Regions from separate parts of the Homo sapiens genome. Here region 2 is linked to region 1. A link means that fine-mapping ties the variant in region 1 to the expression of a gene that starts in the linked region. Tissue or cell type: whole blood. Region 1 holds a variant in brackets; the other region holds the start of a gene. All regions are shown on one strand. Distances are from middle to middle.

The links. PIP is the estimated chance that this variant, and not a neighbour inherited with it, causes the effect.
Region 2: MGLL starts here. The variant in region 1 is fine-mapped to the expression of MGLL in whole blood (INTERVAL, PIP above 0.99).

The regions. Positions count from the first base shown.
Region 1 is chr3:127,715,275-127,720,274 of GRCh38, reverse strand. All of the region lies in intron 5 of MGLL (monoglyceride lipase), which reads left to right. Among named protein-coding and RNA genes, the nearest start is that of ABTB1, 45 kb to the right of the region's middle. The variant T/A (reference allele first, on the strand shown) is at 2,241.
Region 2 is chr3:127,820,236-127,825,347 of GRCh38, reverse strand. It overlaps MGLL (monoglyceride lipase), which reads left to right and starts at 2,833. Exons shown (of 8, transcript NM_007283.7): 1 at 2,833-3,039; 2 at 3,510-3,654. The coding sequence starts at 3,030. RefSeq lists a silencer at 1,872-2,391.

The DNA.
Region 1 (5,000 bases):
CTCACCCCAGTGCTGGGCAGGGGCTGCTGCCTCCTGAGTCAGTTCTGGAGACTCTCAAAGGAGAAAGAGGTGAGATAGTAGGTCATGGGGCCAGGTGCACTGGGCAGCCGTCACCCACAGGCTTACCCTATGAACTGTGGGATCATTTAAATAATGACATTAGCTCTTATTCCCCCACCGCACTCTCTTCAACACAGTACAGGGAATGAAACCTTATAACAACATCCTCAAAGGGTTTCCTTCAGCCCATGACCACAGACTTGCTCCTGGCTCTAGAGACAGGCTTTCAATTAAAAACAGAAAATTTCAGCCATCTGAAATGGGGCTCGGCTTGGCAAAAGAGAAATCAGGGACTATCTGATAGTTTAGCCAGAGAACGATGATTTACTTAGTTTGCGAGAGAGATGGATGATATCTCCTTTGAATTTTACTCCAGTTTAAGGAAATCACGGACTTACTGAAATTGACTATCATGAATGAAGTTCAGTGCTGTGTGGGACAGTACCAGGGTTCTGTCACAGAGTGATCGAGGTCCCTTAGCATCACAATGCCCGGATGTGCACTACCTCTTCATCATTGAAACGTGCGATTGGGGGGAGACATGACCTACTCAACATCTCCCGTGACTATGGTTCTAATTATCTAAGTAGAATAAGCAGGCCCAGACTCAGCAGCAGGGGCGTTCCCGCTGCGTTCCATGGGATTTGCTATATGCAGGTCTGCAAAATTCAGCCAATGCCAGGCATGCACTGTGCTCTCCCAGGCATTGTCTCATTTAACTCCTCTCCAGCCCAGGAGCAGGTTGTAGCAGCACTTTCCAGATGGGAAAACCTGGGCTTAGGAAAGATGAATGGCTGGCCAGGATTGTGCAGCCCTTGTGATGGGTTTGAATCCAGGGCTGCCCACTCCCCATCTAGGATATTTCCCCAGGGAAGAAAATGGATGTTTCTGCAATGGATGTTTTCCCTTACAGAAAAGCCAGGGCCCACAGGACTTTTCAGATAAAGTGCACCAGGGGGACCTGGCAGCTGGGCCTGGAGGTGGGACCAACAAGGGTTTCCTCCCAGAGCCCCCTGGGCTCTATACCGACCAGGGGAGGGGGCACTTCTGGGCAAGGCCACCACTGTGACCTTTCAAAGACTTGTGCTAATAGATCACCTTGTGACATTCGGAGCCAGCTGCCCCTGGGGGAACACAGGTCTCCTCTTATTAACCAAGACAAATGAGGTTTCCCTTTGCCCCAGACTTGAGGGCCCAGCTTCCCCTCCCTGAGATCTGTTGCTGCTCCTGCATCTCTGGCAATTTTGGCTGACAAAGTCCATGATGCATTCGTCCACCCTGCCCCTGGAAGGCTTCATCACTCTTGGCACATTTTCTAGTCTGGTCTGACAACCTTCCTGAAAGTCTCACAGGATCTATTTTTTAATGTAATTTAAAAGTTTTAAGAATAAGACATTTCTATGGTTCAAAATTCAAAAGATATGAAGGAGGATGCAGGGAGAGTCTCTCTCCCGGTTGGCGTGGGCAGCAACCCATGGTACCAGCGAGAGTCTCTGCAACTCCCGTCAACGCTCACTCCATTTGTTCTTCTTTTTCACACAAATGGGAGCTTGCTCCATGCATGTCGGGGGTACTCTGTGTTTGCTTTTGTTGTTTTGGTTGGTGTGTTTGTTTTTGTGGGTTTTGGGTTTTATTTGGTGGTTTTGCTTAGCAACCTTTTGGTGCTCCTTCCCCATCAGGACCTACCAAGGGTCCCACTGCAGGGATAGGTCCTGGTTTCAGGAGGGTGCCCTGGGGTCATTTCCAGTTGTTTGCTCTTATGAGCCTCAATGATGGAACAATTCCTAGAGCCCACCTCCTCCCTCTAGCGTTCTGTTTGGGAAATCTGTTTGGTGGTGGGGCTGAGGGGCTTCCCTGAGTGTGGCTGTGAGTGGTAGCAGAGCACAGTCAAGTCCCAGCCTCCTGACTCCTCAGACAGTGTTCAATCCATCAAGCCATTCAACAGTTTCCCAGCACCAGGCACCTTCTAGAGCAACTCCCCCAGTTAGTAAGGGGCAGCGTGAGATGCCCAGTCTGTGAGTACAGTCTGGCCTGTGGAAGACGGCCAGCCCCCACCCCCTGCAATGTGAGAACGCCAGATCACCCCCACCCTCCTAAATCTCGCCACCATCTGGTTCTTATGTGGATGCTGGTTTTCAACAAGCTGGGATATATTTAGCCTGGAGATGAGACAATGAGGA[T/A]GGATGGGGGGGCCCCAAACATTGTCTCTGCTGAGAAAGTGGTTTCGCAAAGTGGTAGCAGCAGAAATTCAGAAACAAAAACTCCATGCATCTGAACAAATCTGGCTATTTGTGAGGTCACTCTGTGGGGTTTTTCACCATGGCTCGCGGCTCGTGCCTGGGTACAGAGGTGGAACTGTGGCCCCCCAGCTGGAAGAGTGTAAAGCTCCAGGTGCCCCTCGGGATTTCCCACCCTTAGTTGTCTGGGACAGCACTCAGGAGCAACTGCAGGCTGCAGGGCCCCTCCTTTCTCTGGGAGCCTCTTAGAAGAGAAAAATCCCTCTGGGCTAAGCTTGAGGGATGGGGGTCTCAGCCTACCAGGAGAGTAATCATTCTAAATGACCTCTCCCTGTTGCCAAGGTTGTCCCTTGGGTTCCTGGGGCAGGGGTGCAGGAGTCAGCCAGTGCTTCAAGATACTCCCACTCTCCGCCAAGAAGGGCACCTCGCCCAGTAGGGAGAAGGGGGTTGCCCCTGGGAGCCCAGCACTCGGTGCCTGACATGCATTGTCTCCATTCCTCTCCAGCACCGCCCTGGAAGGAGGGGAAATTATTCCCAATTTACAGACAAGGAAATGAGGCCAAATGTCTTGCTCGAGTCAGCTTGAGCACCAGCTCAGACCAGCTAGCATGCCAGGATACCCCCTTTCACCCCAAAACACACCTGAAATCAGCTTCCCTTAATGGAGCCCACTCCCATCTGAATGTCACTCATCTGTTTTTAGCCATAGAATCCAGAAGGCCCTTGGGGCAGTGGGAGATTGCAGGGAGGGAGGGGAAACAAGTGGAACATGGCCACTCTTTCAAGCTTCAGGTGAATTTGGACCCAGGATCCCGGAACTTAGCCATGCACTGGCCCTTTGGGCAGCAGCAATGAGCTGCCGTGGGGGTTAGTTCACCTCTGTCCTGTGGGCACCTGCTCTCTAATAGCTGGGTGTTGGGCTTTCTAGACACCTGTTATTCCAGGAATCAGCTGTCTTCCTAGCAAGCCTCCTGCCACACATCTTTGCTGAGCCCCTGATCTATCAGGAAACAAATGTCCTGGCCTTCCCAGCAAGGGTCACTGGGAAAGGGGCACAGCACTTTCTGTTTTATGGCTGCCTTAAGGTGTCCTCTCACTCTCAAGAAAATCTGGGGCAACCCTGAGGGTACCTGCTGTGTCCCCCACATGGCCGTCCTATGACCCTTGTCATAGTGCTGTCCCACGGAAGGTGGGGAGTCCTAGCCTCCTGCGCACAGGTCAGCCTGTGGGAGCCACTTAGGAAACAGCATCTGTAATTGCCTTCCTCATGGCAAGGCTTTCACTGGCAGAAGTGAAATTCACTTAGAAATGATCACAGGGAGCCATTAAAACCTTCTGGATCAATAAAGGCATTTGTGCCTGTCTCTAGTATTTAAAGTGACAGGCGTGATGGTGCATCGGGAACGCCCCTCAAGCCTCTTGCTCATCAAGATGTTGACTTCAGCTGTGGGACAGTTGCCCTATTTGTGGATGACTGTGTCATTTGTTGCAAAGCTGCACGTCACGTGCTTTTCCTGAAGTCTCTACTTTGAATGACATTTGCTCATTCATTCAGTCAACCAACACCTATTTATTGGGCCTCTCCTTAGGGCCAGAAGCCAGGAAGAGAGTTAGGGACCTGCTGCAGAGCGGTTGAGTCTCATGCAGCTCTCCCAGCATCCCTTCGGAGTTAGTTTAATTATCCCTGTCTTACAGGTGAAGAAACTGAGATCATAGACTTTCTCGAGGATTCAGAATCAAAGTTCAAATCCAAATGTGCCTGCTTCGCGTCTCCAAATCTGGTTTCTCCATTTCATCGCCTGTCCCTTCCGGGGTTGGGGTCTAGTGACTGTGTAGCCATTTGTCATGGGTTTTGGCCCCAAATTATCCTCAGGCGACGACCCCTGGGGTCTGGGTTGAGCTGGCATAATTGGGAGCTCTGTGGTTACACAAACCTGGTTTCACCAGGGTCATGGGGCAGGTGCGGGGGGTCTCACCTCAATGGGGGAGCCATGCAGGGGCTCCTCTCTCCTGAGCTGGATCCAAGGCTCTCTCAATGCTCCTGTAGGACTATTCGAGGATTTTGAAACACTTGATGGAAAAGGCATCAAGAATGTTAAAGTTTTGGATTCCACGTCCTTTTTGGGTGAGCAACTCCCCTCTGAGGCTTCCCTGGTGTGCTCACAGCTCAGGATGGAGGTTGTGGGAGAGCAGGAGCAGCAGTCATCTGGTCGACCTCGACAATGTGATCCATCTGGGTGCGGGACCTGCCATGACTCCTTCCTTCCCCACTGCTTCCTCGTCATGCCGCCTCAATGGCCCCTGCTCAACCGTTCTGCTTTCCTTCATGCACAATCAACCCACTTCCTCTGCTTAGCTCTTTCTCCTCCCATCCTACCCTTTCCTCCTTCAGGAGAGATTAGGCTCATGAAATCAACAAATCTTAAAAGAGCAGCAGGGAAAGGGGATCTCTTTTGCAGTTGTTCAAAACATCCTGCCCCTGCATGGCAGCTCTCCTCTTTCTTGGGGCTTTTATGGGGAAGAGGCTAAACACCTAATTTGTTTTAAGCCATGAAGTTATCATTAAAATATTTGCCTCTACACAATTGAGTCTTGTTAGAAATATGGCTTGGAACTTACTATGCAGGTTTAGAAAAAGAGCTGAAGATCAGGGCTATGCAAACATCTCTTATGGTGGTTCCTTTGAAAGGGCAGCTTGCCCTG
Region 2 (5,112 bases), 110 kb before region 1:
CAATTATCTCAGAATAAGTTTAATTAAAAGAAAAAGCCAGATACAGAACAATACGATCTGTCTCTTAACTCCCAAATTCCCAGTTGGCTGGCCACACACCACAGTCTCAGTTCTGTCCATAACCAAGTTTGGGGGATCTCTTCAAGTTTGCAAATGTCACTTCTACTGAGATCCCTCTGACAACTTCAGTGAAGTCTCTCCTCAAAGCTTTTTTTTTTTTTTTTTTTTTTTGAGACAGAGCCTTGCTCTGTCGCTCAGGCTGGAGTGCAATCACTGCAACCTCTGTCTCCCGGGTTCAAGCGATTCTCCTGCCTCAGCCTCCCGAGTAGCTGGGATTACAGGTGCCCGCTACCATGCCCAGCTAATTTTTGTATTTTTAGTAGAGATGGGGTTTCACCATGTTGGTCAGGCTGGTCTCCAGCTCCTGACCTCAGATGATCCACCTGCCTGGCCTCCCAAAGGACTGGGATTACAGGCGTGAGCCACTGAGCCCGGCCTCTCCTCCAAATTTTCAAGCTGTGTATTTTAAATCATAAAATGTTAGAGCCAGGAACATTTGAAATAATGCCTTGATAAAAGCGTCCATCAGACCCCCGAGCACCCTTCCTTTCCATGAATTATAACCAACGGAAATCCGGTGCACTTAGCATGTCCAGCTTTGAGTGAAGCCCCCAAGCTTCCTGCCCCTGAGACTGCCGCCCCTAAACCTCTCTTGCATGGATTCTGTAGAGCTGCCCCGACCAGAAGTCACTTAGCCACTCCTCTGCTCCAGGCCTCGTGGCCTGCTGGAGGCCAGACAGTGGGTAAGTCACGCTCAGCAGTGCCTACAACTCAAGCCACTGCTCAAAGGCTGTTGTTTTATTTCTCAAGTTAGACCACAGGCTCTGTAGCAACTTGGGCCTCCTTGGACACACACAGTGTGACGCTGAGACACAGTCCTCAACGCTGCTATGGTGTAGAATTTTTTGCGGAGAAAGACAGGAAGGCCTCTTGAGGTCAGTGTGAGACAGGGACACTCCACTGGGGCATAGGTATATCACTCACAGGTTGAAGGTAGGTAGACTGAGGCTCAAAGAGCAAGCGGAGGAGCTAATGTTCAACCCAGGTGGTGTGGAGTCTCAGTCCAGTGGCCTTACCCTCCACGGCCACGTTGCTAGTTATACTGGACAGAGCTCAGACTGTGCCCTGGCCTGTGTAGATGCACCAGAGGTTTTATCTGGGGGTCACAGCCGCTGGGAACGGGAGAGTTGCTGGGGATTGCCAGGAAGGGACAAGGCATTTGTAGCCATGCACCATCTGCTTTTACACTACCCTAGAGTCAAGTGGACCCCCTCCAGCATTTTTTTTTCCCCGAGATGGAGTCTCACTCTGTCACCCAGGCTGAAGTGCAATGGTGTGGTATCGGCTCACTGCAACCTCTGCCTCCCGGGTTCAAGCGATTCTCCTGAGTAGCTGGGACTACAGGCGCATGCCACCACGACCGGTTAATTGCCCCTCCAGCATTGTATGTGTCTGACTGCAATGAAGTGTGAGTGTGTCTGTGTGCGACTGTGTGTGTATGATGTGAGTGTGTCTGTGTCTATGTGGGGGCCAGGTGTATAGTCTGCATATGTCTGTGCACCTCTGTGTCTCTGTGGGTTGTCTGTGCCTATGTCTCGGCTTGTGTGTGTGCATGCATGTGTGGTCTGTGTGTGTCTGTATGCATGTGGTATCTCTGGGATGTGTGTCTGTATGTCCCTGCGTGCAGTGTAGTGACTTTGGGAGTGCACATGTGTACACGTGTGGTGAGTGTGCGGCCCTGCGCGAGTTGTCTGTGTACGTGTGGTGCCTGTGGGTCTGTGTGCGCGCGTGTGCCCGTGGGTGTGGTGTGTCCTCCCGCGCTGAGGCTCCCATGAACCCAGCTCAGTTCAGGCCTCCCTGACAGTCCTCGGGCGGCCACCCCGGGGCGCGGCTGTCCACGAGGCGCGGAGGAGAGGAGTGCGTGGCTGGGTCGGCGGGCGGCGCCCCCGCTCCTCCCCGCGGGCCGGGCACACGTGGGCCCCGGGCGCCGCCTCCCCGCGCCGCCCGCCGCCCGCCGGGTCCCGCGCGTCCCCACCCACCTCGGGCCGCCCCCGCCGCCGAGCCGGCCCAGGGATAAAGTGGCGGCGCAGACGCCGCACCCTGTCGCCGCGAAGCCGGTCGCGCGCAGCTCGTCCCGGCCCTGGCCCGCCGCAAACGAGGATCCGCTGCGCTCGGGGAACGCGACAGCGGCGCTCGTGGCCCCGGTAACTGCCTCCCGGCCCCTGCCCCAGCCCGCCAGTGCCGCCGTCAGGGGTGGGGAGCAGCACTGGGGTCCCGGACACGCCCGGCGTGGGCTCCCGCTACCCATGTGTGCGTGTGTGTGTGTGCACGGTGTGTGTGCGCGCGTGTCCGAGTGTGCGCGCGTGTGCGCGCGCGCGCGCCCTCCCTGCTCCTTCGCACCAGCCCCCAAACCAACTTGTCCCCATCAACTCCATCTTTCTAGTCCCCACCTTCCCCGGTGCAGACACCCGGCGAAGCCCACCCGGTTTTCCCAGCGGCATTTCCGATGACAGCTTCGGGGCTACGTGTCCTGTGCTGTCGGAGACGCACAGGAAGCAAAGTTTGTGAGAAGCCTTGGGGGCGACTTTGCCTTGGGCACCCGCATTTGTGCGTCTGCGAGGTGCCTCGGTGTGCGCGGAGCTAGTTTCCCAGTTTCCCGGGCCCCTCCCTTCTCCGAGCCCCTCTAGCGATTTGTTTAGGAAAAGTGATGACATGAACTAGTAGTGGAGAATCGCAGCGCCGCTCCCCGCCCTGGGGAGGGAGGGGAGCCCCGGAGAGCCTGCCGGTGGGAGCTGGAAGCAGGCTCCCGGCTGAGCGCCCCAGCCCGAAAGGCAGGGTCTGGGTGCGGGAAGAGGGCTCGGAGCTGCCTTCCTGCTGCCTTGGGGCCGCCCAGATGAGGGAACAGCCCGATTTGCCTGGTTCTGATTCTCCAGGCTGTCGTGGTTGTGGAATGCAAACGCCAGCACATAATGGAAACAGGTTTGTCATGTATCCTTGGAATTTCAGATGGGAGGAATAATCTGAGTATCATCCACCTCATTATTGTGCCCACTTGAAACTGTTCCTTGGAGATTTTAAGATAGATGGGTCTTCTTGCAGCTGGGTCTTTGTACCCATAGAGCTGACTATAATTTCCACTTGATTACAGCTAAAATAGTCTTTAAGATGAAGTTTCCTGAAATGATTTAAAATAAACACAGATGGGAAGGGGGAAAAACTGTAATGAGGCACTTAAAAAATAAAGTGAGCATTTTCTTAAGAACAAATGGGATTTTTCAGTCTTGGAGAGGTTTGCAAGAAATGTATGTATGTTTTAAACCTTTGAAACAGAGGGGTTTTTTAAACTGCTTTTAAAAAAATGTTACTGACTCTGAACTAGACTTTTCTCTCCTATCCATACATGTTCTTGAGATATTTCTGACTTTGGAATATGTCACTTTTCCTTCTAGGACCTGAAGACCCTTCCAGCATGCCAGAGGAAAGTTCCCCCAGGCGGACCCCGCAGAGCATTCCCTACCAGGACCTCCCTCACCTGGTCAATGCAGACGGACAGTACCTCTTCTGCAGGTACTGGAAACCCACAGGCACACCCAAGTAAGTCTTCCCCAGAAAGTCACCCCAGGTGACAGGGGAGCATGGCCCCTGCTTCTCCTCTGGTCGTTATCATGTGCCATCTGGGGCGGGGCCGCTTTCTCTATGACCTACTTCCCCTGCCGTTTTAATGTTAGGCTGAGCAATGTTAACAAAGCTAAAATGTATACTTTATAATTTTTAAATTTAAGAAGCAGGAATTCTTTTTTCATTATAACAACTCAGATATGGATCCTACCGTATGGCAATTTTCAAAAATTCCACATGACTTTATTTTTTGTACTGGAGTTGATTTCCGGTTGTACAGGCATTCATTTAAAATCAAACCCGACAATTAAGGAAAATCCCCTAGATGGATGAGAAACCCGAAGTAATACATATATCTTCACCTTTGCTCACTTTTCCTGCTTGTTTCTGAGCTTCTGAAGATGGCATACATGTGTCACCAGGAAGAAAGGGGCCTGGGTATTTCCTTCTGATTCCTTGCCAGCTCAATTACTTTGTACATTTTCCATCAAGGATTTGTCTTGCTATTAGAAGCAAACATTGGGACTATACACAAGACAGCTGGTCTCCTGCTGCTGCTCCCTCCTCTTGGATGAAGCAGGAAAACCCTGCTTGTTTGTGTTATTTGGAAAAAGAATTTATTTGTGGTAACCAATTGGCCTGGTGACAAGAACATTTCCTGTTCCAGGGACATTTTACCTGTTTTGTAGGCCTCTTGTCTCCTAGGGATCATTGTGTGGTTGGATTATGTCTCTCTTTGTGCTCCAGTAATCACCCAACCCTCACACAGGTGTAAAATTTCTTCTCTGTCTTCATCAAGGTATCTATGATCCAGGGAGCTGCACGTTAAAAACACAGAGATATGGACTTTTAAAACCCGGCATAGAGTCATAGCTTCAGGGCAGCTACACAGACTGGCTATGGTTTCTCTCTAGTGTTTTCAAGTGGGTAACGTGCTGAGAAGAGTTCCTACCAGTTCTGGTAATACATTTCTTAAAGAATGTGTCTGTACGTGCATACGCATTAGAGGAAGTGGGGGGGTTGTTGAGCATTATGATGCTAATTAATCATTAATTCTCCACTCTGACTTAACTGGCTGTAGAATTGCTCAATCTTGGATTAATTTCTAACAGATTAGTGGTTTGTGGTAATTTGATCAATATACAGAAAGAAGACAAATAATTGAAAATAGAAGTTTTTAATGTCTGAGTCTCAGACTTGGGGGGCTTTGTTGGTTAAGTAGTGAGGTTGTCCTAGTTCGAAGTCAACAAAAATAAAGAGGTTCTGCAGTCCTGGCACAGGGGGAGGGTGGTGGGTGAGTGGGTTAGAAACGGTCAAGTTGGCTGCCCTGCCCTCCCTTCGCCTGCGGGTGGTTTTCACAATCTCTGTGCTGAAGTTGCATTGCAGGGAGCCCTCTCTGCTCCGTTGCTTTTGCTCTAGTTAGAGATGATAACT